7 linked regions of the Homo sapiens genome follow. The protein of the gene in region 1 interacts with the protein of each later gene in a pairwise test. Each region holds a gene or a part of one and is shown on either strand. Other genes may lie near its edges.

The links.
Region 2: the proteins of GNB1 (region 1) and SPAG1 interact in a two-hybrid assay, tested with the Homo sapiens proteins (one large-scale study listed by BioGRID).
Region 3: the proteins of GNB1 (region 1) and CTNNA3 interact in binary tests that used the Homo sapiens proteins (3 or more experiments, as listed by UniProt).
Region 4: the proteins of GNB1 (region 1) and AFP interact in a two-hybrid assay, tested with the Homo sapiens proteins (one large-scale study listed by BioGRID and IntAct).
Region 5: the proteins of GNB1 (region 1) and CYFIP1 interact in a two-hybrid assay, tested with the Homo sapiens proteins (one large-scale study listed by BioGRID and IntAct).
Region 6: the proteins of GNB1 (region 1) and DISC1 interact in a two-hybrid assay, tested with the Homo sapiens proteins (2 studies listed by BioGRID and IntAct).
Region 7: the proteins of GNB1 (region 1) and GNGT2 interact in a two-hybrid assay, tested with the Homo sapiens proteins (one study listed by BioGRID).

The regions. Positions count from the first base shown.
Region 1 is NC_000001.11:1,789,419-1,793,587, reverse strand, and holds part of GNB1 (guanine nucleotide-binding protein G(I)/G(S)/G(T) subunit beta-1), read left to right. Parts: intron 1-276; coding exon 277-343; intron 344-2,991; coding exon 2,992-3,193; intron 3,194-4,169. UniProt on the Homo sapiens protein: Guanine nucleotide-binding proteins (G proteins) are involved as a modulator or transducer in various transmembrane signaling systems.
Region 2 is NC_000008.11:100,210,054-100,214,427, forward strand, and holds part of SPAG1 (sperm-associated antigen 1), read left to right. Parts: intron 1-3,036; coding exon 3,037-3,375; intron 3,376-3,765; coding exon 3,766-3,865; intron 3,866-4,374. UniProt on the Homo sapiens protein: May play a role in the cytoplasmic assembly of the ciliary dynein arms. May play a role in fertilization. Binds GTP and has GTPase activity.
Region 3 is NC_000010.11:65,918,113-65,922,486, reverse strand, and holds part of CTNNA3 (catenin alpha-3), read left to right. Parts: intron 1-1,869; coding exon 1,870-2,157; 3' UTR 2,158-4,374. UniProt on the Homo sapiens protein: May be involved in formation of stretch-resistant cell-cell adhesion complexes.
Region 4 is NC_000004.12:73,449,142-73,453,515, forward strand, and holds part of AFP (alpha-fetoprotein isoform 1 precursor), read left to right. Parts: intron 1-193; coding exon 194-326; intron 327-894; coding exon 895-992; intron 993-1,473; coding exon 1,474-1,612; intron 1,613-3,259; coding exon 3,260-3,483; intron 3,484-4,374. UniProt on the Homo sapiens protein: Binds copper, nickel, and fatty acids as well as, and bilirubin less well than, serum albumin. Only a small percentage (less than 2%) of the human AFP shows estrogen-binding properties.
Region 5 is NC_000015.10:22,914,086-22,918,459, reverse strand, and holds part of CYFIP1 (cytoplasmic FMR1-interacting protein 1), read left to right. Parts: intron 1-524; coding exon 525-672; intron 673-1,146; exon of another isoform or gene 1,147-1,448; coding exon of another isoform or gene 1,449-1,829; coding exon 1,830-1,983; intron 1,984-3,577; coding exon 3,578-3,734; intron 3,735-4,374. UniProt on the Homo sapiens protein: Component of the CYFIP1-EIF4E-FMR1 complex which binds to the mRNA cap and mediates translational repression. In the CYFIP1-EIF4E-FMR1 complex this subunit is an adapter between EIF4E and FMR1.
Region 6 is NC_000001.11:231,692,325-231,696,698, reverse strand, and holds part of DISC1 (disrupted in schizophrenia 1 protein), read right to left. Parts: intron 2,874-4,374; coding exon 1,894-2,873; intron 1-1,893. UniProt on the Homo sapiens protein: Involved in the regulation of multiple aspects of embryonic and adult neurogenesis. Required for neural progenitor proliferation in the ventrical/subventrical zone during embryonic brain development and in the adult dentate gyrus of the hippocampus.
Region 7 is NC_000017.11:49,207,775-49,211,789, reverse strand, and holds the start of GNGT2 (guanine nucleotide-binding protein G(I)/G(S)/G(O) subunit gamma-T2), read left to right. Parts: upstream 1-1,215; 5' UTR 1,216-1,346; intron 1,347-2,389; exon of another isoform or gene 2,390-2,583; intron 2,584-2,835; 5' UTR 2,836-2,945; intron 2,946-4,015. Other genes in the region: ABI3 (ABI gene family member 3), read right to left, coding at 949-1,065. UniProt on the Homo sapiens protein: Guanine nucleotide-binding proteins (G proteins) are involved as a modulator or transducer in various transmembrane signaling systems.

The sequences.
Region 1 (4,169 bases):
GTGTATGTTTCATGGGTGTGGTTTCTGCTTCTGCCCCCATCACGGAGCTGTGGGTCTCTGTGGGACGTGCTGTCCTGCCTGGCCAGGCTCTCACCCTCACCAGCAGTGCGTGTGGACCTTCTGCTGTGTGCACAGATGGGAATAAAAGGTCACTAGCATGGTGCTGGTCTTACCTTAGACGTAGAGCTTCCACCGGGCCAATGTGTTTCTCTATGTATGAGGCTGGGTGCAAGGCCTGCTGGATTCAGCTCATCACTTAGGCCTGTTCTTTGCCAGGTTACCTGTCCTGCTGCCGATTCCTGGATGACAATCAGATCGTCACCAGCTCTGGAGACACCACGTGGTAAGTACCTGACCCGGGGCAGGCAGTGCCTTGAGAACCCACAGCCCCTGGCACATTCCTCTGTGAACATGGAGGAAATAAGGTTCTTGACATAATATTAGGCCATCTGTAATTTAAGTGGCCTTAAGATTTAAAACACATAGTAGCAATGTGTGAATTCATTATACTTTTTTTTTTTTTGAGATGGAGTTTTGTTCTTGTCACCCAGGCTGGAGTACAATGGCTCAATCTTGGCTCTGCGACATCTGCCTGCCGGGTTTAAATGATTCTCCTGCCTCATCCTCCTGAATAGCTGGGATTACAGGTGCCCGCCACCACGCCTGACTAATTTTTGTATTTTTAGTAGAGACCAGGTTTCACCACATTGGCCAGGCTGGTCCTGAACTCCTGACCTCAGGTGACCTGCCCACCTCGGCCTCCCAAAGTGCTGGGATTACAGGCGTGAGCCTCCGTGCCTAGCCTCATTATACTTCTAATAAATTTACAAAGTTTAATTTTCAGCAGCTGAGAACTAAAATACACATTTTTTTCTTTTTTTTTTTTTTTTTGAGATAGAGTCTCTCTCTGTCTCCAGGCTAGAGTGGAGTGGCGTGATCTCGGCTCATTGCAACCTCTGCCTCCCAGATTCAAGCAATTCTCCCCTCTCAGCCTCCCGAGTAGCTGGGAACTACAGGTGTGCGCCACCACACCCAGCTAATTTTTGTATTTTCAGTAGAGACGGGATTTCACCACGTTGGCCAGGATGGTCTCTTATCCGTTGACCTCGTGATCTGCCTGCGTCAGCCTCTGAAAGTGCTGGGATTACAGGTGTGAGCCCCCATGCCTGGCCAACATAGATATTTTAACTACAATCAGGCTCAAAGTACCTGCTCTTCTTTTTTTTCCCCTCTATATATTTGTACCTCCTTAGGTGATGATAGGTGGGAGTAGGGTGGGTTTTGATTGTCCCTTTCTGATAGCATCATGTCATTGTGAACAATGAGCACAGACTAAAAATAACAGACGTCACAATTCAAGTGATTCCATCAGACTTCATTTTTAGTGTTTTCACCTTACAGGTAAACGGAAGCCCACTTAAATGCTAGAATTTTTTCATTTGTGGCATCAAAGTACTAAATTAAATGTCCAGATAGTTATTTTATGAGAGTCATTTTAGACTTCAGCTGGCCATGTGGGTTTTTCTGGTCTTCTGAGGCATGATTTGGTGGCAGGAGCTGTGCCCAGCCCAGGGCACAGACCCCTAGTCACGCAGTTGGTGGGGTTCACCGAGACATGGGCCCTTAACCAACTTGTCAGCAAAGCATCTGTGGTATTATAAGGTGTCCTCGTTGTATAAATTTCATAGATTTACAAAAGATTTGTCACCTAGATTGTCAATCTTGAGAAGACTTTATTTATTAGAAGATATTTTTAAAGTGCTTCTGTTCATTAATCATTTTTTTCAGACTCTTTTACGTATCTTGCTTCCCTTCTGCAGTCAGTCCCTCAGGCCCTAGAGAGGAGGCTCCCTGTGCAGTGTCTGTTGAGATTGGCTGATTGGATTTGCATTGCCAGGCCCAGCCAGGCTTTCCTCTGAGGCTGACATGAACGGACAGTGCTCTCTGGTGTTGCCTTCCATGGGTCGAGGCACAGGAGAATAGTATGTTGGTGGGCGTGTGGCCCTCACAGCTGTCCTTACACCTGAGCCAGGCTTCTGCTCTGTGCAGGGCTCTGTCAGCGTCTCACCTTTTGACAGCTTGTTAAGCAGAAATGTGATAGAATACCAGGTATGGCCGGGCGCGGTGGCTCATGCCTGTAATCCCAGCACTTTGGGAGGCCGAGGCGGGCGGATCACCTGAGGTCAGGAGTTCGAGACCAGTCTGACCAATATGGAGAAACCCCGTCTCTACTAAAAATACAAACAAAATTAGCCGGGCATGGTGGCGCATGCCTGTAATCCCAGCTACTGGAGAGGCTGAGGCAGGAGAATCGCTTGAACTCGGGAGGCGGAGGTTGTGGTGAGCCAAGATCGCGCCATTGCACTCCAGCCTGGGCAACAAGAGTGAAATTCGGTCTCAAAAAAAAAAAAAAAATACCAGGTGTGATCACTGAGAACTCAGCTGCTCTCCTGTTTGTGATTCCAGGAAAGGGCAGGAGGACCTCAGAATTGCTGTGAGCCATTTGTTTACCTGGCATTGGCCTTCTCCTGCCTGCCTTTTCTGAGACCCTGTGGAGGGGAGGCCAAGGGAGGGCACAGAGGGAGCAGCCACAGATAGAGTCGCGTCCCCTCCGCCATCCAGGGCCTCCACGTAGCTTCCTGCCACCCCTTCCATGCCCATCCATGACCAAAGAGGGGGCACAGCCTCAGTGGTGCTGCTTGAAAAGTGCCCCCAGCTCCCTGTTTGCTGGCATTTGAGTTGAGGTAGCGATCCCGTCATTCTGAAGCCCAGGCCCTGTGCTCATCTCTGTATAATTTTGCTTGCTTTGCTTTGTTTCCCTTCCAAAGTTGTATTACATTTAAATTTGTCTTTAAACAATTTACGTTTTTAAAGTAACAGTGCAGAGGCTCACTGTGGCCCTGGGTGGTTTGAAGGACAGATTGTCTGTCACATGACTAGCCACCCAAGAAGTTAAGGCTGATGTCCCCTTGTCATTCGCTCCTGCTCCAGTGCCCTGTGGGACATCGAGACCGGCCAGCAGACGACCACGTTTACCGGACACACTGGAGATGTCATGAGCCTTTCTCTTGCTCCTGACACCAGACTGTTCGTCTCTGGTGCTTGTGATGCTTCAGCCAAACTCTGGGATGTGCGAGAAGGCATGTGCCGGCAGACCTTCACTGGCCACGAGTCTGACATCAATGCCATTTGCGTGAGTCTGGGTGGAGGTGTGGGGTCGGGTCCTCTGCCGTCTCTGCTAGCCGTTCAGATTGCTAAATTTTAAACTTTTCTGGATTAGATGTTCTCCTTTCTGATCCTTATACAACCTCATGTACAGATGGGGATACAGAAAACTCCCGATGGGAAACTTCTCTGTGTTGACCACTTGTCTCACAGATACTCACAGGGTGTTGTATGCCAGTCCCCGTTCCCACCTCTACAGCTGAGCAGTGGTTGGGATCCTGGAGGGGAAAGACAGTAAGATAACTCAGGCCACCAGTGGTTACAGAGCCTTACTGGTCAGGGGCACAGCTAACCAGGGAACCTGCCCTCCTCTTTAGCACGCGGATGGCTAGGCAGTGTTTCCAGCCCCTGGCCTTGTGAGGAGACTTAGAAGGATGTATCTGTTGGTTGGACAGAGCTCTGCTGCAGTCCTGACCACAGCCTTGGTCAGCCCGCTTCCCTCCTTCCTCCATGAGATTAGCCCTGATGGCTGGCAGCTACAGCAACATGCACACCTGTCAGTGATGACTACTTTCTCACTATCCTTTGGAATAAATTCTACTCTTTGGGGACAGTAATCACAGTGTCCAAGATCACAGTGTTTGTGTGCCTCCCCAGTGCAAATCCCCTCCCATCCCAGTCCCCTGTAGTTCCTCCCCCATCCCCCCACCCTTTTTTTTTTTTTTTTGAGACGGAGTTTTGCTCTTGTTGCCCAGGCTGGGGTGCAATGGTGCAATCTTGGCTCACCGCAGCCTCCGCCGCCTCCCGGTTTCAAGCAGTTCTCCTGCTTCAGCCTCTTGAGTAGCTGGGATTACAGGCGCACGCCGCCACGCCCAGCTAATTTTGTATTTTTAGTATAGATGGGGTTTCTCTATGTTGGTCAGGCTGGTCTCAAACTCCCCATCTCAGGTGATCCACCCGCGTCAGCCTCCCAAAGTGCTGGGATTACAGGCATGAGCCACCGC
Region 2 (4,374 bases), on another chromosome or scaffold:
GGGCATCCTTGTCTTGTTGCTGATGTTTAAGGGAAAGCTTTCATTACTTTTATCTTTGAATATGATGTTGGCTCTGGGTTTTTCATAAATATACTTTATTATGTTGAGGAATTTCACTTCTATTCCTAGTTTTCTGAGTTTTTTTTTTTTTTAAATCATGAAAGCATGTTGGATTTTGTCATGCCTTTTCAGCATCAATTGTGGGATCATGTATGCAATTCTTTACTTTTTCTGTTAATGAGGTGTGTTGGCATTGATTGATTTTCTAATGCTGAACTACCTTTGTATTCCTGGGATAAATCCCACTTGGCCATGGTGTATAATCCATTCAGTATGCTGTTGAATCTGTTCGCTAGTATTTTGCTGAGGATTTTTGGTCTATCAACTACTCACACTACCCTACTTGAGGCTACACTGTTGGCCATTCATTCCTTTGATAGTTGTTATTGTTGACTCCTTTCTTCCCAAACTACTCTTGGTGTTTCTGAGGCAGTATGCGCTCCTGTTTTTTTCTCTCATTTCTAGGCATTTCTGTGCCTACACTGTAGATTTTTCCTCTCTTCATCCTTTAAGTGTTAGTATATCTCAGGGATCCTTATGAGCCTTTGAGTGATCCCATCCACATCCAAACTTTTATTTTTATTTTTTGTAGAGATGGAGTCTTGCTATGTTGCCCAGGCTTGCTTCAAACTAGTGGCCTCAAGCAATCCTCCTGCCTCAGCCTGCCAGAGTGCTAGGATTATAGGGGTGAGCCACCTTGCCAGTTCCACACCCAAACTTTTTTTTTTTTTTGAGATGGAGTTTTGCCCTGTCGCCCAGGGTGGAGTGCAATGGTGTGATCTTGGCTCACTGCAACCTCCACCTCCCGGGGTCCAAATGATTCTCCTGCCTCAGCCTTTTGAGTAGCTGGGATTACAGGCACCTGATACCATGCCCAGCTAATTTTTGTATTTTTAGTAGAGACAGGGTTCACCATGTTGGCCAGGGTGGTCTCGAACTCCTGACCTTGTGATCTGCCTGCCTCAGCTTCCTAAAGTGCTGGGATTACAGGCATGAGCCACCGTGCCCGGCCCCAAACTTTTATATATTAGTAACTCCCAAGTCACTGTCTCTGGATAAGGCCACTTCTCTGATCTACATGTAGAGCCACCCTCTGAACAGCTCCATTGCATTGTCCCACGGGTATCCCAACACCCAACAGAACTCACAAGTCTTTCATGTTTGGGCCTCTGTTTACCTGTCCAGAGACTATCAAAGTTGTTCAGAGCCATTTCAATCTTAAGGTAAGAATGCTTTGCATTCAGTTCAAATCTGGGTTATGGCTGGGCACAGTGGCTCATGCCTGCAATCCCAGGACTTTGGAAGGCCAAGGAGAGAGGACTGCTTGAGACCAGGACTTTGAGACCATCCTGGACAACATAGCAAGGCCTCATCTGTATAAAAAATTTTAAACATTAGCCAGGCATGGTGGCTGGCTCTCACCTGTAGTCCCAGCTGCTCTGGAAGCTAAGGGGAGGATTGCCTGCCCCAGAGGTTGAGGCTGCAGTGAGCTATGATGGCACCATTGCACTCCACCCTGGGCAATAGAGCAAGACCCTGTGTCAAAATAAATACAAACAAATAATAAAAATAAAAACAAGTCCGAGTTATGCTGGCTTCTAGCTCTGTGTACTAGAGCGCATTCCTTAGCTTCTTGTTTCTCTGTTGCCTCATTTGTAAAGTGGGAATGATAATACTTGGTATTAGGATTAATGTGATCCATATCAAGTTCTAAATGAACTGCAGCTCTTTAGTGATAGCATTGGTCAGACCCGAGGGGATACTGTGCAAAGGGGTGGAAAGTAATACCAAGCTGACCATTGTTTCTGCCGACCCTGACTTTTGTGCTTTCACCCAGTTTCTGGTGGAGAACCTGATTGACAGAAACCAGATTAAAACTGGAGCCTTACTCTAATAACCCTACTGGGTTTAATCTGCAGATTTATCTTTATAGCAAAATCTTTTTATTGTTTTAATAATTAAGATCCCTTTGGCTGGTGATCCAAATTGGATGTTATTCTGCTGTATAGAAAACAGTATTTATTAATGTGTTTTTATACTTGATGCTTGTCTTAAGGTGATCATCCACTGATTTTCACTTAAATAATTGTGCTTTTCTATTCCCTCTGTCTCTGTGCTTAAAATCTTGGCTTTACCATTCATGAAAAAGAATGGAAAATATATCCATTAAGAATCAGATAAGAATTCGTTAAAAGAGAAAGCTTGGAAATCTCTATATTTAAGTACTTTTTAACGGTGCTGTGAAATGATTAATTGCTTTGTTTTAAATATTGCTAAGACACCATAAATTAAATATTTACACATCCTTTTTATATTTAAAAATAGATTCAACAATTATTAAAGCTATTAATACCTGAACTCCTAATCAAAATCAAAGAAATTTTTAGTTTGAATAAGGCAATGGGATGGAAAATTTGCTGTGTTTTTAAGGCTCCCTTTAAGTTTAAAAACTAGGTGCCTAATTTGTGACTTTTTTGCTAAATTCACTTTTAAAATGACTTAAAAATCACTTACGCTTTATTTTTCTTTCAAATCTTTTTCTCCTAATCTTTTAAAATAAGGAAAGGTGCCTCCGTGTTGGGTATTATAATTGTATTCAAGTTTTTGCAACTCCATTCAAAAAAGTACGTATTTTGTAAGCTCACCTGGACAGGTGGACTTGATGAAGGGGATGGCTCTGAGATGCCGGTTTTCAGCCACAGGCCCTTCAGCGCTTAAACAGTTAGAGACAGGGTACGTTTCTGGCCGAAACCCGGGAGCCGAGTCCTCAGGAAGCCGCAGGGGGCCTCGAGGGAGCGGACTGGGCCGACTGGCTCTAGAGGTCCGGCAGCACAGGCTCCGCCCGCAGGGGCGGTGCCCGAGCCGGCTTCCCTAGAGCCCGCCCTCCGCGTCCTGCACCCCCGCGGCCTCCGCGGCCTCCGCGGCAACTGCTCCCGGTGATGCAAACCCTCACTTCCCGCATCCACTTCCTCACAGAGCCCGCGGAGCCGGCGGGAGCCGCGCGCGCCGCCCAGCCGTGCGTCATGGGCAACATCCAGAAGAAGCTGACTGGCAAAGCCGAAGGCGGCAAGCGGCCGGCAAGGGGCGCGCCGCAGCGGGGCCAGACCCCGGAGGCCGGCGCGGACAAGCGGAGCCCACGGCGGGCCTCTGCGGCGGCGGCGGCGGGCGGCGGCGCCACCGGGCATCCGGGCGGCGGGCAGGGCGCGGAGAACCCTGCCGGCCTGAAGAGCCAGGGCAACGAGCTGTTCCGAAGCGGGCAGTTCGCCGAGGCGGCCGGCAAGTACTCGGCGGCAATCGCGCTCCTGGAGCCAGCAGGTAGGTGCGCCGCGCCCCGCCGCTTCCTGGGCCCCTCGCGCTGCGGTTCACCCGACCTCCGGGGCCCCCGTGGGAGAGGCGCTGCCGCCTCCTGAATGACAGGCGCCGGCATCGCTGCATTCCTCCCAGGTGACTAAGAGCGCCGTGCCACCTGACCTCAGTGAGCAGCACCTGGGAATGCCGGCATGTTCCCGGCCAGGCACGTTTGCCTCCGTCCCCGCCGGGTTTTCCCTTGGTGGCTGTTGCGGGTAGCAGCTCCGTGGAGTTCTGCATGATCAGTCTGCAGGACTGCAGTGCCACCCCACCGGAGACCTCGGCCGTCTTGTAATTCTGGTGAACTGTGATCTTGCTAATGGATTTTAACTGTATTTAATTAAATGTGATTTTTAGGAAGTGAAATTGCAGATGATCTAAGTATCTTATATTCAAATAGAGCAGCATGTTACCTAAAAGAAGGAAACTGCAGTGGCTGCATTCAAGATTGTAACAGGTAAACTGCACGTTTTCAGGTTTGTCAAGAGATTGTTATAATTTCATTATGGTGAATGCAATATCCAAGATCCTAAATTTTCTGCCTAAGGATCTAATTTCTTAAGAGCTTTATGGTATGTTAATTGATTGATGCATAAAAATCATAAATTATCTTACGTATATGAAGAGAGTTATAGAAGATTGTGCAAACTTTTTTCATTTCCACTGCTACCGCCCTAATTCGTGCTCTTTTCATATCACTCCTAGACTACTGGAGAAGCCTGATAACTAATTCCAATCCACTGCGGCATCAGAATAACTTTCCTGAAACATTATTTTGTTCAGATTGTTTCCAACAGGCCTTTAATGGCTCAGTATTGGCTTCGAAATAACTGTAAACTTCTCTGTCACTACACTGCCTCCAAGCAAGTTTCTCCTTCCGTTTGGTCTACTGGACCACTTGCTTACTCTCGCCCACCTTGTTCTCTGAGCCCTTGCCCATGTTGCCCCTAATGGTGGTAATGCCCT
Region 3 (4,374 bases), on another chromosome or scaffold:
TGTTTTGTTATGAAATAGTCTTAATCTAAATGTCTTTAAATGGTTTGGGGCCTATAAGGGTGACTGAGTACTTCTATTTGCTCTTCCAAAGAAACACAACTTGGAAATTAGTATATAAATTTTCAAACCACAATCCTAACAAAATGCATTGGCAAATAAGATACTCTATTGCTCCTGGTAGCAACATGCATTACAAAAATAAGAGCAAGCTTCTTAAAAGCAGAGTTGCTGGCTAGTCAACTTTAAAATTTTAGACACTCTGTTAAGGTTAGTATAATTTATTTAACTATTTGATATCGAAAAATAATCACATATTGGAAGTAGGATATTCTTGGAGGCAGGTTTATGTAATGAGAAAAAACGCAAGGTAGAACCAGACTTACTTGGTTCCAGTTCCAGCCCTACTATCTAATATCTGTGTTACTTTGAGCAAGTCACCAGACCTTCCAGTTCCTTTGTTTCTTCATCCATAAAATGAAGATAATAAGAGTACTTACCTCATAGGGTTGCTATGAGTTACTTTATGTCAACTGCATACTACAGCATATAATAGATATTAGCAATTATTTTAAGCTCTTCTGACACTTGGAACCAAACTCTTGACATTTGTCTTTCAAAAATTGCTTTTGTGCAGGACCAACATCCAACAGGGGTCTTTGAATTCAGGTACACCTTGAGACTCAAGATCATAGGCTACATTTGGTACCAATTTACCAAAAAGGTTACTGGACAGACCATATATCTTTCCAAGCAGCATCAGGTTTTTCTCTCAGCAGGAGTCTCAGAAGAAGCAGTTGGCATGGCAGTTCACACTGCCCTGTGATTGGGAAGCTGCTTTCCCAGGTGACAGACCAGGTGCAAGAAAGTGAGATCCACACCAGTGGAAGTGAGGTTCACGTAGGCTTAGAATCCTCATGTAAGGCGTATGTCTGGTAACAGTCTTGAATCCAAACTATAGGGAGTTAGACTAGTGTCCTACGAGTAGAAAGCATTCTAGTGTTTTGACACAATCTCTGTGAGAAACTTCCAAAAGCAAGAGAAGGAATATGTACCATGTCTTTTTGAATATTCCTCTTAGCTATCACTAATTACAATAGGGTTTTGGCAAGGGTTTGCTAGCAGACATTCCAAATTGACATAGTTGTCAAGGATTTATAGGTATTTAGTGTTTTTGAGAAAAGATCCAGGTATTCTATACAAACTACTTACATGGACGAAATGTTAACATTTTATGAGGAAACAGAAAATGTATTTTATTGTTGCTAAACTCCACCTTTTTGTAGTAAATGGCTATTGATATGTTTTTAAGAGCAAGTCCTTTATCCGTAAACATTTGTAGAATTGGTCCAATTTGTACCGTTGTTAAACTGAAACCATATAATACCACAAAGCACAGAAGAGACACTATAATAAAAGTAAGATTTATACAGGATAATATTTAACAGGATTCTATTTAAATTGGCGTATTAGGGTTATTTGCAAAACACATTACATAATTAGCATAAGAGTTAATTGAACATAATCACTTATCCATCTAGATACAAAAAAATGAGGCAGAACTTATTGATTTATGTTTGGGCATAGACAATATTGAGCAGCTTATTGTGACATTAATAGACTATCAGGCTCAGTTATTTTTATTTTTATTATTTATTTATTTTTTTATATGGGGTTTCACTGTCACCCAGGCTGCGGTGCAGTGACGCCATCTTGGCTCACTGCAACCTTTGCCTCCTGGGCTCAAGTGATCCTCCCTCCTCAGCCTCCTGAGTAGCTGGGGCAACGGGCACATGCCACCATGCCCACGCTTGGCAATAATTAACAAAACCTCCTGGAATAATAGCTCTTTTTTCTCTTTTTTCCCTACAGTTGGACAGTGTCACATCCCTGATCCAAGCAGCCAAAAATTTAATGAATGCTGTAGTGCAAACAGTGAAAATGTCTTACATTGCCTCAACCAAGATCATCCGAATCCAGAGTCCTGCTGGGCCCCGGCACCCAGTTGTGATGTGGAGAATGAAGGCTCCTGCAAAAAAACCCTTGATTAAAAGAGAGAAGCCAGAGGAAACGTGTGCAGCTGTCAGACGAGGCTCAGCAAAGAAAAAAATCCATCCATTGCAAGTCATGAGTGAATTTAGAGGAAGACAAATCTACTGAAACCACTATTCTACATATAGTGCCTATATGACAAAATCCTGCCTAACCACACTGCTTTATTTTACACTTAAGAAGTTCTGTAATTTCACTAAGTTTTGGTGTTTAACTCACAAATAACATAAAATATTGGGCGCTAAATCAACAAAAGCAATATATATTTGGGATCATATCACTGTCATTTCTGTATGGTCAGCACCTAATAGTTAAGGAATATTTGCTTGTTGAATGAATGAAATTATCACGTGTCATTCAGCGTTTCCCATCATAGAGATTATCTACTATTCGTTACCAAATAAACACAGGAGAGGCCAGAGAGTCCTGTTTATCTGTAATACTTCATGTACACTTATCATCCTTATCTTGAATTAAAACACTAACATGAGCTCCTAACTTGGTTTTTTAATAGAAACAAAAGACTTTTATAAAATATTTTCCCATTTAATCTCCATGCTTTCTTTATCTGATCTAACCTGGCACCTAACCAGGCAGAAATGTATGATTCCTGCCATAGCAAAAAAACCACCTTTTAATCTCTAGATAGCTGTACTCATTGTCAACTTATTAGGCTAATATCCATTATAAACTAATCAAATTTGAATAGTTAGGCTACTTGCTGGATTTTGAAGGTCAACCTTGTTTATTAATAAAATGCTTTCTTAACATTATAAAGGTTACAATGAGTTCTGATGCCACATACTCACCTTTTGGGTTTCCAATGTGTTAGAGAGTTCTGTACTTTTGAGTGTTAGGCCTATCCGAATACATATGTGAAAGAAGAGTTATCACCCATTGGGAAAATGAGACAACAAACTATATCCCAAAGTGAGTTATATTAATAATAACAGAAGTGTAAGTTCTGTATGACCCTATTTTTACAAACATAAAAATACATTTTTATCAGCTTGCAATTGTAATTAAAAGGAAAATGGCAGTTTGAAAAATCTTTTGACGTTGAGTAAAATATAACTGCATGAACTGTACCATTGAACTATGAAGCAGTTAATGGCAATGAAGCTGGAGTGATTTTAATAACGTTCTTTTAAATAAAAGTCACTGGGGTCATTTTACAACTCCAGTCACTGTGTTCATTCCTAGTTGAGTTCATAATGGACTTCATAATAGTCTTAGAGTCTAGTGTACCTCTCTCTGTCATTCTCTCTCTCTTTTTCTCTCCCCTGATGACCTGCCTCTCTCTGTCTTTCAAAAATGTCCTTAACAGAAACTCTTTGGAGGCCATAAGTTTTGTTTTCATTTTTTCTCATTCATAGAGTTCTGATTCACAGACTTTAAAAAACATTTTCTATTCTACATTATCATAATAGTATTATATTGTACCTTTTTACTTCTAAAACATTGCCATTGATGAGAGGCGTCTCAGCAACGATGTAACCTTAGATTGATGAGAAAAAAATTTACACATACAATACCAGTTGATATTAGGAGAACCAGTTTGGGTAAAAGGATGCATGAAACATAGAAAAGCATAAAGATTGACAGTACGATATGTGTGGAATCTTAAGCATAATGGTATGGGAAAAGAAGGATCTATTTAATAGGTCATTATTAATTATGCAGGAAATGTTAAATTTCTTGTAATGAATTATTTCAATCTTCCAAGTAGCTGGATTGCCTGAGCTCAGTGTAAAACTTCCTAGGAGGTGAAGGCAATAAACTCCTCCCTGTTTTGCACCATAGACTGGCCTACAATAACTATTCTGAACAGAATGCACTGCCCAGAAGAAAAGGCAGTGAAGAAGGGAATTAGGGAATTCAGATGACTCTGTTTTTCAGAATTATCTAGATGATTGAGGCAAATAGAGATTTTCTTTTATTGAAATGCTGCCATCATTTTCTGCTCTAAGTGTAGATGTTGCACGAGTGACATCTGTGGTATATCCTTCTTCCAGATAGAAGTATAAATTTATAATTTAGTGGGGAGAGGAATTTTCTTTTAATCACCAAACTACCAGCTGTATAGAAAATTTTTTTGAAATCACCAAACTAGCAGTTGTGTATCTTAGCTCCTAAAGCCACATTCACAAGAATCATAAGCATCTCATTTAGAAAATCTAATGTCCACCGGACCCAACATCATCTTTCCACATGTTGGAGTTTAGAACATGCAGTATTGGACACCAAAAGAACAGAAATAACTTGAAATTATACAATTACCAAATAACCTCCATCTCTTTGATAAAAATGACTTTTTACCCAAAG
Region 4 (4,374 bases), on another chromosome or scaffold:
GGACAATTTGAAGGATCACAGTCTGTATTAACAGTTTTGCCATTCATATAATTCAAATCATATTTGATTTTCAGGTTTATTTATTTGAATTTAACTTCCACATGCCATATTATATAGGAATAACTGGAGAAGTGATGGCTCCTTTTGTCTCTTAGTTCCAATAACTTGAAATATTTTTCTCCACATATTTCAGTTTTGTTCATGAATATTCAAGAAGACATCCTCAGCTTGCTGTCTCAGTAATTCTAAGAGTTGCTAAAGGATACCAGGAGTTATTGGAGAAGTGTTTCCAGACTGAAAACCCTCTTGAATGCCAAGATAAAGGAGTAAGTTGCTCTAGAATTTTAGGGGAGTATGAAAAACTGGATTGATATCATCTGTTAAAAATGCTGTTTGTTTGAAAGCCTCTAGTTTTCAACTAGTTGTTAGCCAGTTATATCTATTTGTCTAGATATTAAGCTGTTATTAACTAGCAGTCAGCAGCTAGTGGCTTGCTTTAGAAACAAAAATGTTAATTGCTTCTCAGCCTTTTGGCTAAGATCAAGTGTAGAAATAAAAATGTTAACCAAAAGTCCTTTGATCCACAAATAAAGGTAGTATTCATTATTCATTTTTGGATAACTTCAGAAAGGCAAGAATTTGGTACAGAAAGAACTGTAACCATTTATCCAAAGATTGAGTTTTGCCATTAAATGATTTTGTGATTTATAAAATGTTAAACTTAATCTCCCCAAAATCCATTTTCTGTAATTATCAAAATTTACACTTTACCATATTTAATATTTAAACATCTCTGATTGGTTTTATAATAGTATATAATATTGATCAATTTTATATACAAAGTTATGCATCCAAGAAAAGAAAAATGTATATGTAATAATTCTTCATTTTCAGGAAGAAGAATTACAGAAATACATCCAGGAGAGCCAAGCATTGGCAAAGCGAAGCTGCGGCCTCTTCCAGAAACTAGGAGAATATTACTTACAAAATGCGTATGTTTTTGTAAACAGTATTTTTAGTGAATTAAAATTATTAAAGAGAATGTAGCCTTCCCCATTCTCCTCCTTTGGAAGCAACAAGAATGACCTGTGAGGTCTGATCTGTGGTATTGACTTTAAGTTCCCCATACTGTGCAAATTTTTGCAGTAAAGATATCCATTCTGTCATAGTCTGTCCGAGTTAAAGCACCAAAAGATCACAGTTAAAATCAATGAAGCTCCGAGGTTGAGAATACAAGTCAGGCTTCCTCCTGGAGTTTGCTTTTTCATTGTGATATGCTTCTATAATAGGAGTACAGGGAGTGGTTGTTAGAGTAAATGCATCTCAAAAGTTGGTTCAAATACCATGTAGATGAAACAAACGAGCTGACCTCATGTCTTCTGGCATGAGAGTAGAGAGTCTGTGAGAAGAAGCAAGGCGGCTAAAAACTCATGAATGACTCAGCAGGACTTAGTTAAAAAATGCTTCTTTCAGGTTTCTCGTTGCTTACACAAAGAAAGCCCCCCAGCTGACCTCGTCGGAGCTGATGGCCATCACCAGAAAAATGGCAGCCACAGCAGCCACTTGTTGCCAACTCAGTGAGGACAAACTATTGGCCTGTGGCGAGGGAGCGGTGAGTGTCTGCTTGGTTTGGTCCCATCTCATTTCTGCCCTGTTTGACTTGAAATAGCCTCATAATTCCCCTCTAGGGAAGACGGTAAAAACCAATGTAGAGATGGCCTTAGGAGGCTTGTTTGATTAGTCACGGTTGGAGGGGTGTGAGAACCCAGCTCTGGATGGCTGGCATGTGGCCATGCTTCCTATTCCTCCAGGGTGGCTGGTGGAAGTTCAGCCAGTTTAGTCAACAATATCTGAGCCAACTTTATATATCGGAAAGACAGAACGACCAACATGTAACTCATAATTCATAACAATTCATAATTCATAACTTCAAATCATAATTTCTGCTTTTTGTTCATATACTTACTTTGATGTTTTAAAAAAGCTTTATCTTTGATTGATTAAAATTAGTCATGCTATTTTAGCCATATTTATATTTTCACCTTTTGTAACATGATATTATTATTATGACATCAGGAATAATTGGTTCCCTTTCGCAGGGTATAGGGTACAGCACAGGATAAGTATTATGTTCTGAATAGTAAAATGACTTTCGAGTCAGTAATGCCAATATTCTTTACTTCCTAATGTCACTAGTATCATACATAAGATTACAGGATGAATTAAAAATATTTTTCCTATAAAGTCATAATTGCAAACAAAATTGTCTATTTTATCCTTTTTCCTCTTTTTCATAATGGGGAGTTATTTGCTGTTAGTCTTCATGTCATACATTTTTTCCCCAAAGGTTAAGAGTAAAAGGAGAGTTCTTGTGATTAAATGTCACCTCAATTGTTTGTTGAATTTCCCATGCTGGGAGGCTGCAGGGATGCAGGATGGTGTAATGGTTCAGGAGTGTATGTTCCGGAGGCCACCAGCCAACAACCGCATTCTACTTTCACTATTCTTTAGTTGTATCACAGTGGGAAAGCAACTTATGTCATTAAGCTTGAGTTTTTTCATCTGACATTTGAGAATACAAATTATACCACCCTCATACGACAGCTGTTTTAAACAAGATAATCTGCATAACTCACACAGCACTAGTCTGACAGATAAAGTGCACACAAAACATATTATTTCTTATTACAAGTTATTACTAGGTGATTAAGAAATATCTCCTAAGTAGGCAAGGTAGCAAGATTCTACATTAGGAAAGTCTTAAAAACCCACAAAATTGCTCTTACTTCTTTTCAATTAGGATGATATATTAGCTGCAAGTGTATACATGTGTATATGTATGTGAATAAAAGGGGTAAGTTTGTGCTATTCTTACCTTCAGATAGTGATTATCAAAAGAAAAATGGAAAGTTCAACTAAATACACATGGGAAACATAAAGGCAGAGACATTTTTGTCCTTTAGAAGTGTGTATGTAACTGGAAGCATGTTTCAAATAGCTGACACAAATAGCTAAATGACTATCCTCAACATCACATATGGACCATCTGCTACTACTTGCTAAGGCTTAGCCCAAACAAATGGGTAAATCCTGGAATTTACAATATAATGTCACATGATCCTACATAGCAAATTTTCCTGTAATATTAATTATAAATTGCTGGGCATTAGAAATTATTGCAGCAGTTTTCTGAAAAACTGAACCAACTTTGTGACTAATGCCCAATCTCCTTACTTTTTTTTCTCATTCTCCTAACCAGGCTGACATTATTATCGGACACTTATGTATCAGACATGAAATGACTCCAGTAAACCCTGGTGTTGGCCAGTGCTGCACTTCTTCATATGCCAACAGGAGGCCATGCTTCAGCAGCTTGGTGGTGGATGAAACATATGTCCCTCCTGCATTCTCTGATGACAAGTTCATTTTCCATAAGGATCTGTGCCAAGCTCAGGGTGTAGCGCTGCAAACAATGAAGCAAGAGTAAGAAACTGTTACTTGCTAGCATGGAAAAGAATGACAACCCCAAAGAGTAACTGAGACTTCTACCTCGCTCACCTAACACTATTGGGCTCACTAACAGAGCGTTACTCCCAAAACACTTAAAATGCCTTTGAAAATAGTTTTGTCTCAGTGTCTTCACAGTCTCATTGGGGAAGCAGGTCTAGAAAAATTGACGAGGGTGGACAATTTCCTGTTTGTAAAAATAATCTCTGTTGTAACTGTTATTGTGATATGTATTTGGGGGTTGAGGAAAAGTGGGCAATCTATTCTGAGGAATTAGAGTGTATCTTTGCAGCAAATTTGGGTACTTCCATTCCAAGCACAGGAAACACATCATTGAATCTTTTTTTACACTATTTACACTTTGAAGAGAATAACCATCTTATTTAATTCAACCATGCAGTTTGGGTGTTAAGAAATGACATGTACATTTCAGTTCATTGTGGGAGCTCTTTTGTAATGGTGATGGTCATGCAAGTCAATGGAGCTTATGTTCTTCAAACTCCCATGCATTTTAATCCTCACTTGTTTTGTAAATAGTCTTCCTTCATTGGAAAACCCATTCTTCTCTTTTTTCCTCTATCACAGTCTGAGGTATGTTTCACAGTATGATAAGAATGTTGCCTGTTCTGGCAAGCTTTTTCTATTGCTCTGGTCTACTTTCTATTGCTCTGGTCTAAGTCCAACATGAAAGGCTTGCTAAGTGAGCAGTGCAGGCAATTAGTGCTGCCAGTGCCCAGATAAGGGGTGTGATAACTGGATGGGCAGGATTCGGAGATCTGGGTCTTTGAGTGTAGATAAGACACAGTTAAGAAGAGCGGACAGGAAAGGATATTCCTGGGGGATGAGGGGAGATTGCCTTCCACTACA
Region 5 (4,374 bases), on another chromosome or scaffold:
CAAGGTGCATTTATCCCAGGCTCGCGGTGCCTGTGGTTCATGCATGGTGCCTTATGGGGGTCTCTGCACGGTGGAGCCCTGTTGGTGATGAGGCTGTGTTCCAAACCAGTCGAGAGACATGGCCAGGCTCTGGTCATGTGGGTGACTTCACATTCCTGTTGGTTACTGGGGACAGCCAGCTGCGGGCAGGCGGGGCCCAGCTCTGCTCCGTGCGGAGGCTGTGTTCTGCCCTCTCCCTGCCCACAGCATGACTCAGAGCCACCTCACTGCTGCCCTGGGCTAACAGATGCGAACTGGAGCTCAGGGCAGTCTTCTGGGGGTAGTAATACTCTCCAGAAGGCAGACTCCTTTTTAACTTTCCTGTTGAGCTGGTCCATTACCACATCCCTCCATGGCCCCCAGAGTAATTTGTATTTTCATGGGGGCTGTTCTGAGAGCCTTGTAGTTGGGTGAGGAGATGGTGTGATTGTGAGGCTGGAGGTCTCGGCCTCTGGGCCTTGCTGATCACTTGGTGGGGTGTTCAGTGTCCTGCAGGCCATCAGGAAGACCGTGTGTGACTGGGAGACGGGGCATGAGCCCTTCAATGACCCAGCCTTGCGGGGCGAGAAGGACCCCAAGAGCGGCTTCGACATAAAAGTACCACGCCGCGCCGTGGGACCCTCCAGCACTCAGGTTCTCGTCCCTTGAGCCCCGCCTGCACCCTCTCCCTGGGGGGACCCACCCTGAGCTGTGAGCGGGTGGGGCTGGTGAGGCCCGGGTTAAATGAGGTCCTCGCTGCCTGCTCAGGCAGAGAAAGTGGCGCCTGTGGTTTCTGCTGCTCCTCTGTTTCCCACCCAAGTGAGTTGGGAGCGTGAGGAGACGTGCCTTGATTGTCAGATGTGTCATGTGCACTAAAAAGGAGTCTGACTCCATTTCAACTCCCATCCCAAAAATGTGGGCACAAGTCCACGTGTCTGTATTCATTCTGTGTTTCTTGATGGGTGTTTGAATGTCTGTATAATTTTTACGTTGGGTCTGCAAATGACTGTAGATGGGGCGTGGGAAACTGTGAGGTGCTGCTTGCGTGTGTCATGGTCCTAAGCTGCCCACTGTCCTCTCTCCTGGTGTGTTCAGGCCTCCCCGAGGTGCTTCTCACGACTTTCACACCCGGTTTAATCCACACCGCTGCGTCTGTCCTCCGTCCTGGGGCTGGTCTTCTCCCTCATCTCTGCCGGAGGCTTTTAATCTCTTCTGCCACTCTTCTGGAAAGTCACCAGCAATGCACGCTGCTGGCTCTGCAGGAGGGTCAGGGGGACGGCCCTCGGCCTGTGCGTGGTGCCAGCCACCCTCCCTGCCTCCCTCTGCGTGCGTCCCGTGTCCCTGCCTGGGGTGTGTGTGTCGAGTGACTAACGTCTCTCTCCTGCCTCTCCCTCCTGTCTGTCCGTGTCTAGCTCTACCTGGTGCGCACCATGGCCGAGTCCTTGGGCTCTGCCGAGCTGCTCAGGCAGCTCAAGTCTCTGGGCATGGAGAGGCTCTTGCATGCGGTTAACACGTTTCTGAGGCAGTCGTGCACCTACCTACCCCTTTTAACCTTTGGTGGTAAGACATCATTTGTTTCTCTTGACGTTTATGGCACGGAGGCGAACTGCTCCGCTACAAGTTGTTCTTTCCCCAAAGCAGCAGCAACGTGGCCGCGTAGACAGGCACCCGGACCCCTCGGGGAGCTGGTGCGGGGCCCTCCCGACCAGGGCGTAGCGGAGCAGTCCTTCTCTCATGGGCTTTTTGAGTTTGGCATAACTAATGTACCATGTATATTTTCTCCCCCACAAATGTTTCCTTGGATAATCCAGCTTTACATGGTGAGAACCATGCTAGAGTCCCTCATTGCAGACAAAAGTGGTTCCAAGAAAACCTTGAGAAGTAGCCTTGAGGGGCCCACCATATTGGACATAGAAAAATTTCATCGAGAGTCATTCTTCTACACTCACTTGATAAATTTCAGTGGTAAGAGATACTGCTGAGCAGCATCCGGCCTGGCATGTCCTAACACCACTAACACCGTCTAGAATGCTTCCGCCCGCCTGACCACCCCCTACCCCGTCCCTTGGTGCACCCAGACGGTGACTCGTCCTGCCCTCTGTGGCGGTGGCTGTACGTCCCTGGCCTGAGCTCGCTCCACAGGGCGTGGTCCCTACAAGGGTATAAACTGAGGAGCCCGGGCTGGCCCTGAGACATGAACAGAAAATCTTTTCAACCCATGCGGGGTTGGAAACAGGCGAATGTAATCTGGTGCCTGAGTTGAGACACAGGCATTGATAAATACTAGAAATGGCCCTTGCAGACCATGACGTGGGGGGAAGGTGGCGGGTGCCCTGTGCCAGGCAAGCCCATCCTGGGTGACACCCGGCCACCTTGACCGGCCACCGGTGGGTGCGCTCTCTGCCCTCCGTGTGTCTGTCCCGTGTTCTCATCAAGTCCTCCGTTGTCCACCTCTTGCTCAGAACAGGATCCCTGCTGTCTTGGCTGGGGTGCTGCGAGGTATTGGAGGAAATAGTACCACTTTTGCTGTTAACTCCATGAAAGGATGGAGTTCGAGTGTGGGCTCTTTTAATCTGTCTCATTTTTGCGTTAGACAGACCTCCCTGAGTGTGCCTCTAATGCTGCAGCCTGGACATTGGTTTTTATCCTAAGTGAAAGTGAAGAAGTCCTGTTTTTTTGTTTTGTTTTTTGTTGAGACGAAGTCTTGCTCTGTCACCCAGGCTAGAGTACAGTGGGGCGATCTCAGCTCACTGCAAGCTCCGCCTCCCAGGTTCAAGAGATTCTCCTCCCTCAGCCTCCCAAGTAGCTGGGATTATAGGTGCTCACCACTGCGCCTGGCTAATTTTTGTATTTTTAGTAGAGATGGGGTTTTACCATGTTGGCCAGGCTGGTCTCAAACTCCTGACCTTGTGATCCACCCGCCTCGGCCTCCCAAAGTGCTAGGATTACAGGCGTGAGCCACTGTGCCCAGCCAGAAGTCCTGTTTTTATGTCTCCTTTTGAGAAGAACATTTTTAGGTAAGACACAGTGGCTCATACCTGTTAATCCTAACACTTTGGGAAGCCAAGGCAGGAGAATCACTTGAATTCGGGAGTTTGAGACCAGCCTGGGCAACATGGCGAGACCCCCATCTCTATAAAAAATACAAAATCAGTTGGTGGCACGTGCCTGTGTTCTCAGCTACTTGGGAGGCTGAGGCAGGAGGATCGCTTGAGCCCAGGAGTTGAAGGCTGCAGTAAGCTATGATCGCGCCACTCACCTCCAGCCTGGGTGACAGAGTGAGATAGACTCTGTCTCAAAAAAAAAAAAAAGACACTTTCCCCCTGGATCCCACTGAAGGGCTCACAGGGTTGATGAGGTGGCTTTACCTGCAGCTATGCCCAGCTGGTCCTGTCCCTAGTGCAAGGCCCCGGTGACCCCTCCCCACTCATGTCCATGCTGCATGGCTTGGGGCTGAGCGAGGAGGAGCAGGCACCCAGCACACAGCCCTTGTGTCATCTCTGCTAAAGGTTTTTTTTTGCTTGCGGGAGATAACATGGAGTTGTTTGAACCCTCCCAGAAACGCTGCAGCAGTGCTGTGACCTTTCGCAGCTGTGGTTCCGAGAGTTCTTCCTGGAGCTGACCATGGGCAGGAGGATCCAGTTCCCCATTGAGATGTCGATGCCCTGGATCCTGACGGACCACATCCTGGAGACCAAGGAGGCATCGATGATGGAGTGCGTGTCCTGCGGGCCTGTCTCCAGCCTTTGTGTGTGGTGACCGGGGGTCCTCAGAGGAGGTGGCGGAGAGGCCGGGACTGTTTTTAGTATTGTATTTGAAATCAAGTTTCTGGGCCTGGGCAAAATAGCAAGACCCCAGTCTCTACAAAAATGAGAAAACTTAGCCTGGTGTGGTGGCTGATGCGGGAGGATTGCTTTACCACAGAAATTTGTGGCTGCATTGAGCTATGGATTGCACCACTGCATTCCAGCCTGGCCACGTAGCAAGACCCTGTCTCCAAATAAAAAAAAAAAAAAGAGAAATCATGTTTCCTGGGGTAAAGCTTTAGAGATTAATACAAGTAACTAACCAGTTTCTTGGTGTCAGACTGGAATTGAGAGCTCAGGCACTAGAACCAGTCACGTTCCTACTTTGCATGGGTGCTGGCTGGGACCCGGGGACTCAGCCTGGACCAGGGAGATGGATGAACCTGGACCTTCCCCAGGCCTTCGTAGTGCAGGCCCTGTGAGGTGGCCATGCCCGTGAGCTGCCTTGCGGGAGCCCTGTGGCCTGGCCTTTTGTGTGACACAGCCTCTGACCCAGATGAAGTGGGGAAAGGAAGTATTGATTGAACAGCTTTGTTCTGGGGATCAGGAC
Region 6 (4,374 bases), about 230 Mb from region 1:
TCTAAACATATCTGAACATAGAAAGGGTACAACAAAAACACAGTACGATAATCTCACAGGACCACTGTCACATCATATATGTGATCCGTCATTGGCCAAAATGTCATTATGCAGTACATGAGTGTAATTGAAGAGAGTGTCATGTTTTTCCCTGCCCAGCTGTGGGACTGCCATAGACAACAATACTTACACTAAAGAAAAAGTGTGTCCAGATTCTACCATTTGAGATAAGATAGGAATTTAATTTGAGCTATGGACAGAAGGGAGAGCTTCATTTGCTTTTGACTCAAACTCTCTAAATTGGAGCTATTTCTCTAATGATGACAATGGTTAATTTCTGGGTACTTGCTAGATGCCAGGCCCTGTCTGAAGCACTTTGCACATATGATCACATTTAGTTTAATTAACTGGAGAAGAGAAACACCGCAGGAAGGTAGACCCTCTTGCAAAACCCAGGTGAAAGATAACAAGGATCTGAGCCAGGGCAGCGGCCATGGTGATGAGAGACAGATTAGCAGTAGGACTGAGAGGGCTTGGAGGCCAGCCAGATGTGGAACAAGGGAGAGGGAGGTGTGGAAGATGGTTGTGGTTTCTGGCCTAAGAAACTGGATAGATTCTATGCATTCAAATCAACCAATATTGGAGGCCCTTCAGAACGGGTTTCGGGGAAAGACAAGGGGCACTGGTTTAGGCAATGACTAACTGGAAGACTCCACACATCACCCAGAATACAAGCCTGCATCTGTGCTCTGACCTCACTCCCTCTCTGCATAATAAATCAGAGGGCTGGGCTGAGGTCCCTGAGGGCTGAAACAGGGCAAACAGGGACAGGGCTAGAAACATCAGACTATAGATAAAGAACAGATGGGAGATGCTCTTTCGGGGAATGAGCATGAACTTCTGCAGATTACTCCTCCCAAATGCCTGATGAGTGGGTGCTCCACTTCCCTACCCACATGAACATATCCACACACCACACGCAGAAACACATGAGTGCACACACACAAATACACTCGCACATGCATGCACACACACACATGAACACACAGCACAAACATGCACACACACACACGCACACACAGGCACACCTACATGCACACACATACACACACAAACACATATGCACACACACACCAGGATTAAAATACAGTCTGGCAACAGATGAGCCACAGAGCATCTCTACCTGGGCTTCTCTGGGAACTTTTGTGGGTAGAGGAACCCTACCTACTTCCGGCTATACCCACCTCTCAGATAACTGGATGGACAGCATCATCATAAGGCTGGGCCTTAGATGTCTCCAGTTTGTACTTATTTCCAAAGCAGCTACATTCTCATTTGAGCCTTAGAACAATCCTATGAGTTGGTGTTATCTCTAAATACGGAAACTGAGAGCCAAAGAGGTTCAATGACCAGAAGCGAAGTCTCCCGACCCTGTGGAAGGCAGCAGCCACTGCAGCAGGATGGAAGGGAATGAGTGAAGCGGATGAAGAGCAGGATCGCCCTGATAGAGGGCATCCCCATTTTTGTATCTCTCAAGTCCTTCCAAACATCACCCAGCTCAATCTCCCCTGCCCCCAGTTTCCTGTCTCAAAGCAGAGCTGGGCTGCATGAACCACGTCTCACCTAAGCCGGGGCCTGCAGAGGAGCCTGCGGCCCAATGGAGAGCAAATCTGAGCACCTAAGTGACAGAGAAGACAAAAAGGAGAGTAGATCTGTGTCCAATTCAAAGAGACAGAAGTGCAGCAACATCCTGTGCAGCCGGCTCCAAAAGGAGCTGCTGCAGCTTCCAGGAGGAAGTCAGTTGAGCCCAGAACCCCTCGTTTCCTGCCGTCTGCCCAGTGCTAATCTGAGCTCACGACAATCTCGGGCCACAGAGGTGGAAGAGACACTGACCTCCATCTGCCTCCGGTTTCTCAGCAGGCAGTCCCGCAGCACTGGCTCCCATTTCCTGAGCAGGGTGTCCCAAGAGTGGGCATCCCCTGAGCCGCTGCTCCCATCACCACCACAGCCAGCCAGTGAGGGATCCAGAGAACTGGAGGAGCCAGGGTCCATGTCTGGTAAAGAATGCATGTCACGCTCTGGCCTGGAGCTGTTCCTTGCGGCCTGGGCCAAGTCTGCAGAGACCCGTGTAGCCAAGAGACTGAAGGGCCGAGAGAGACATCGCGGGTCCTCGTGAGGCCCGTCCAAGCTGGCAGCTTTGGCTCCCATCTCCTGGGGGCTCTGGCAATGGGACTCAGCCTCTCTGGATGGTGGGCAGCCTTCTGCTTCTCCACGTTCCCCGGCAGAGCCAAGCGAGAGCCGAATAAAGCTAAAGCTTGAGGTAAAGGCACTGTGAGAGCCAGGAGGGGTTGGGGGGACCTCAGGGCCACAGCCAGGGCTGCAGCTGTTGCTACTCAACTCTGCTGATGGCAGAGAGCCTGCTGCCCGGACACGCCTTGCTCCATCGCTGCAGGCTGCCTCCCAGCTGGCGTCCAGGGTCTCAGAACTATCCATGGCTGCAAACTCTTGCTGCCACCCAGCACTCCCAGGGCCACACGGCCAGCTAAGCCTGTCAGGCAATCTGGTGCCACCTCTGAGCTGAATCCCAAAGTGCGCCGAGGTTCCTCTCACAGAGGTCACAGTAGGGGCTGCTGCACTCTTGGAAACAGGGCTCCGGACCAAGAGGCCTCTCGAGTCAAGGCCACACTGTCTGGCCCTGGACTCCGAGTGGTGGGACTCCTCGCCAGACACCCCTCCTGGGAACCGGAACAGTGTGCCCACTGCTGGGGAAAGGAACCCGATCCCAGGCCCTGTCGAGCTTCTCATGTAGCCCGGCCTCCGTGCCAGCCGCCGCCTCCGAAAGCACGCTGCAGGTGGTAAGCAATCCCGGCTGCCTGGGAAGAAAAGAAAAAACAGCACCATAAACATGCAGATCTTACTGGCCCAGCTGGAACTGCATCTGGAGAACATCCCTAGGTTTAAAGGTCATCTCTCAGTACACCTGTCAAAGATAGATGCTGGCTCAGTGGTCCCAGGGCCAATCCATTATGTAAATCCTGACAATCCTCAGGAAGTATTTGCCTGGAACATGTAGAAATCAACACAGCATCTCAGCTCCTCGGTTTAGCAGAGCAGCTGGCACTGCTGTACGCTATGCCAACAGGTCAGCATGAACACAACCTTGGCAGCTCCTGAACCCTCCAACATCTTGCCTGTTGGTCTTTTATGGCACCTCAGTACTCTCATCCTGGAGTGGGCCTGGAAAGCAAATGACGTGAAAGAGGAATGCCAGAGCATGCCTCTAAATGAGATCCAACTATTTACTCTAGCTATTCGTTGAACATGTGAATGTTCACTAGCGGAGCTATCCATGTCCCTGCAAGACTGATCTGTTGCTGCAGACCATGGATAGCTGGCTGTGCCGCAATGTATGGCCATCATCTCATCTCACTCAGTGGATGACAGGAGGCCTGCTTGATGTGTTCTCCAAACCAGCATTGCATTCCCTTCCCAGCTATGCTATAGGAATAGGAACAATAACAAATGCTGACTCCTCATTGACTGGTTCAAACCCTGATTGTACCACTTGCTGGTTGTGTGACCTTCCACAAGTTACTTAACCTCTCTGTGCCTCAGTTTCCCCATCAGTAAAGTGGTGATATTAACAGTAGCTCTCTCATAAGGTGGTTGTGAGCATTCAACTAAATGAGTTACTATTTGTAGACAGCTTAGAACAGTGCCTGGCACATATGATGATAAGAGTGATTAAAATGTTATTATTTTTAGATTGCATAGCACTTTGCTACTCATAATGTGTTTTAATTTACATTAATTTCATTCACTCCCGACCAAAACCATGTGAATCAATCCGACCCGAAACTATAGCTTTCCTTTTATATTAAAGGCAACTGAGATTCAGAGAACTTGACTTTCCAGAACCCCCTGCAAGTAGCCAAGTGACCAGGACAAAGTCTCTTGACTCTACTGGCCCACACAGAGCTCTCATCTCAGGACCCTGCCACATTGCAAATCAGGCATGAAAGTAAAACTAGGCAGCACTAGGCACAGCTGTAATCATACCATGGCCTATGGCGAGAAATGGAACAAACTTCACTCCAGGCCCACACATCCTGCTTTGCTTCCCAGAACAGACATGGGCTTGGAATCTTTGTCCTGTTAAGCCGAGATCACTAGGCATTAAGGATCCCACTGAGCTACGATCATGGCACATGCCATCTCCTAAAAGGGGTGGGGGTGGCATTGATAATCTCTGGGGAAATGAGCACAATGACCTCTAGCCCCCTATTTCCTGACTTGAGCATCTGAAGATAACAGAGCCCAAGACTTGCTCACACAGTGACTTGCTCTTGCCAATTGCGGGGAGCTCCAAAAGGG
Region 7 (4,015 bases), on another chromosome or scaffold:
GCCTGTAATTCCAGCTACTCAGGAGGCTGAGGCAGGAGAATTTCTTGAACCCGGAAGGCGGAGGTTGTAGTGAGCCAAGATCGAGCCATTGCACTCCAGCCTGGACAACAAGAGCGAAAAAAAAGGAATGCCTGGCTCTGCTGTTTGGAGCTGTGTGGCCTTAGACAAGTCACCTCACCTCCCTGAGCTACTGTTTCCACATCTGTAAAATAGGAATTATAATACATGTCTCACAAGGTAGTTGTACAGATTAATGAAATAACAGAAGTGATTTCCATCATGGCTCAGTTGCCTTGCCTCTCCTCCCTGAATCCAGGAATCTATGTTCTCAGCCCCAGGACAACCACACAATTTAAAACCTGTTCTACAATGCCACCTCCCTATCTGTTGCTAGAAGCCTGCTCCCAGCAGTTATGTGGGCCATCCCCCTGCCTCTGCATGAGATCCCCTCTCTTTAGCCCAGCCTACTCTGCCTTATCCCCACTCTCCCTTTCCCAAACTCAGGGAAAGAGCCCCTTTCCCTTGTCCATCTCAGGTTCACTGTGCTGTTTGGGAAGTTCTTCTGAAGCCTCACCCAGAGCCGGCCTGGAAATAGAATGATCGCCAGCATCTGTGTGAGGACGGAGGCTTTGGGTCTCTGGATTGACCCGTGGGAACTCAGAAGGATGAACCTGAGGTGACACCTGAGAACAGGATGGAATCGCACTGTCTGTCCCAGGCATCTCTGAGGCTCTGAGAGACAGAAGGGGCACAGTGGGGGCTTGGGTAGTATGGGGTCAGGGTTAAGTATTGGGGTCTGGGATGAAGCCGAAGCCTGGAATGGGAGGATTTCTCAGCCAAGGCCCAGGACAAGCACTGTCAGGATGGGTCCCAGGGCCCCACTTGGGGCAGGGCTCAGGGTCCCCCCTCCGGGGGCTGGGGTGTCAGGCTTCCGCCCGCTCTACCTACCTGCACATAGTTGTCCTCGCAGTAGTCAGCGACCCGCAGCAGGGCACTGTGGTTGCCCCTCAGAGCCTCCCGGCCAGTGGGGATCTCAAACTCCTGCAGCTGCTGTAGCTCCGCCATCACCCCCAGCCTCTGTCTGGCTCCCCAGGGAGCCCGCTCGTTTTGAGTCTCACCCTGCCCTTGATTGGTTGCTCTGCCTTCCCTCCCTCTTATTGCTTTTGGTTTCCTCTGCGTGAGACCCAAACCTGCTTGCAAAGGGCAGGCATGCTCATTCCGGGACAAGAGGAAGTCAGTCCTGCTCCCCGAGCCTGTGTCTCTCTGTCCCCTGCCCAGAGGAAGGGGGAAGCCAGGGGCCCATTTGGGGGCCCAGCCCCCAATCCCACCCAGCAGAGGAAGCCAAGGTCGGGGCAGCTGTGATTGCTCCCTGGTCCTGGAGAGGAAACTGGTCGGCTGGGGGATGGGGTCGGAGACTGGGGAGGAAGGGGGCTGGCCTGCTATAGGGGGCGGAGGTGGATTTTCCACTCATGGAAGGCGGGAGGAAAGGGCAGAGGGTGGGGGCTTCCTTGGGAAGCTCAGGGATGAGTCACCAAGGGACAGGGGAGTGGAGGGTGGATAGGATATGGAGATCCGTCATACCAGAGGACTGTGGGGCAGCAGCACAGCAAAAATAGAAAACAGCCGATGCGGCAGCAAGAGGGGTCAGGGTTGGACACCGGGAAGACATGACCAGAGAGGTTGCCAGAGGGGTGTTAGCAAGCCTGCGAAGGGTTGTGTGTGATGAAGATCTGCCCTACACGCTCTGTGCAGATGAAGGCAGGACAAGATGAAATTGACCAAGCGTAATGTGAGGGACTCAGATTAGACAACAGGAAGGACTTGGATTTGAGAAGCACCAGGTTCAAATTTCAGATCAACTTGCGGTTTTAGGAAGCAGCGGTGGACAGAGCACTGAGCCTGCCTAGGAGGTATGGGCTGTGGTTCACGCATTAACAGGACAGTTGTACCAGACAACCTCCAGGATCCTGTTCTGATTTCAAATTCTTAGAGCTCCCAGCTGAGAGTTGGACTGGGTCCTGGAGCACGGAAGTTAGGATGGACGGCGGGCCTCCTCTCTGCCCCTCCCACCACCAAGCCTGTCATCCTAGAGACAGGAGAATAAGAGGACCTCCCATTGACCATATTGGTCCCTTAACTTTTGCTCCTCCAGCGGGTCCCTTGTCATTGGATGGGTGTCAACCAGAGCAGGAGCTCAATGTCTGTTAAATGGCATAGCCCTTGGGTGGTCCTGGGGGGACAGCAAGAAAAAAACCAGGATGTGGGTTCTGTGCTCAGGAACCCACATTCAGGGCTCAGAGGGAGGCATGGCAGCAAAGAAGCTTGAACAGAGGCATTAGAGGTGGCCACGCCCCAAGTACTAAGTGGCACAGCTTGGTGAGCAAGGACATTTTTATTGAATGAGTGGATGAAGAGTGAGCTAGGAGAACTTCGTAAGGTGAAACTGTGGGGATCCAATGGGCAACACAAAGCATCTTGGTTAAGGAGGTTAGGGGCCGGTCTAGGACTTGCCTCAGGAGGAAGGACAGCCTCAGAGCATGCTCAGAGGTGGGAAGGGAAGGAGGAGAAAGCAGGCGAAGCGGGGTAAGTGGGGCTGCAGGGTGGAGGTGGAGAAATAGAAGCGCTGCGGGCTCTAAGCTAGTGAGGTCACCAAAAGTGTGAGGCTAACGCAAGGCAAGGTGGTGAAAAGGTGGCTTCTGTTTTCGCGTTTGTTTTTGTGGGGAGAATGTCTGTCTCTCTGCTCTGCTGTAGTGAGGGCTTGAAGGCTCAAGCGGGTGATGGGCTTAGAACTTTGAGCCTATGATCAGCTTAGGCATCAGAGATTTTGGTTTCCAGGCCATCTGCTTTATCTGAAGATTTTCAGCTGATGAAGAACTAGGAGGCTCAAACACTATCTTACCTGAGTCCAGGACAAGTGACTTGGAGAGTGTGCTCTTCTGTGGCAGGTGAGAGGGGCTGAGGTTGCACTGGGCTGGGATCTACTCTTAGTATCACTGGGGCTAGGCACCAGGAAGGCCTTCCTGATAACCCTGCAGTGATAATAATAACAATAGCATTATTAGTGATAATAATAAGTGTATTAAGTGTTCATTATGTGCCAGGTAGTATATTATAATATTTTATAGACATTATTTTCTTAGTACCCACAATAATTGCATGTGGTAGGTTTTTTTAATACCCATTTGCAGCTGGGGAAACTAATACTCAAAGAGGTTGAGTGACTTCCCTAAGGCCACACTGAGAAAGCAGTAAGGAAGCAGCAGATCAGAGTTGGAGTCTGGTAAGCTCCAGACCCCCTTGTCTCTCTCTCTCTCTTTTTTTTTTTTTTGAGATGGAGTCTCACTCTTGTCGCCTAAGCTGGAGTGCAGTGGTGTGATCTCGGCTCACTGCAACCTCCGTCTTCTGGGTTCAAGTGATTCTCCTGCCTCAGCCCGCTGAGTAGCTGGGATTACAGGTGCCCGCCACCACGCCTGCCTAATTTTTGTATTTTTAGTAGAGATGGGGTTTCACCATGTTGGCGAGGCTAGTCTCGAACCCTCAACCTCAGGTGATCTGCCTGTCTCAGCCTCCCAAAGTGCTGGGATTACAGGCATGAGCCACAGTGCCTGGGATCTTTTTTTATTTTTTGAAACAGTTGTTCTCTGTTACCCAGGCTGGAGTGCAGTGGCATGATCTCAGCTCACTGCAACCTTCGCCTCCCAGGTTCAAGCAATTCTCATATCTCAGCCTCCCGAGTAGCTGGGATTATAGGCACTCACCATCACCCCGGCTAATTTTTCTATCTTTTGTAGAGACGAGGTTTCGCCATGTTGGCCAGGCTGATCTTGAACTCCTGGGCTCAAGCGATCCTCCCACTTTGGCCTCCCAAAGTGCTGGGATTATAGGGGTGAGCCACCGCGCCCAGCCAAGACCCCCTTCTCTTGACCATTATTGTATACTCTCCCTTGCTGGACCTGGAGAGAAAGAGGAAAACTCTGAGTCACTATATGAAACAATAACGTTGCTTCCCAGATCT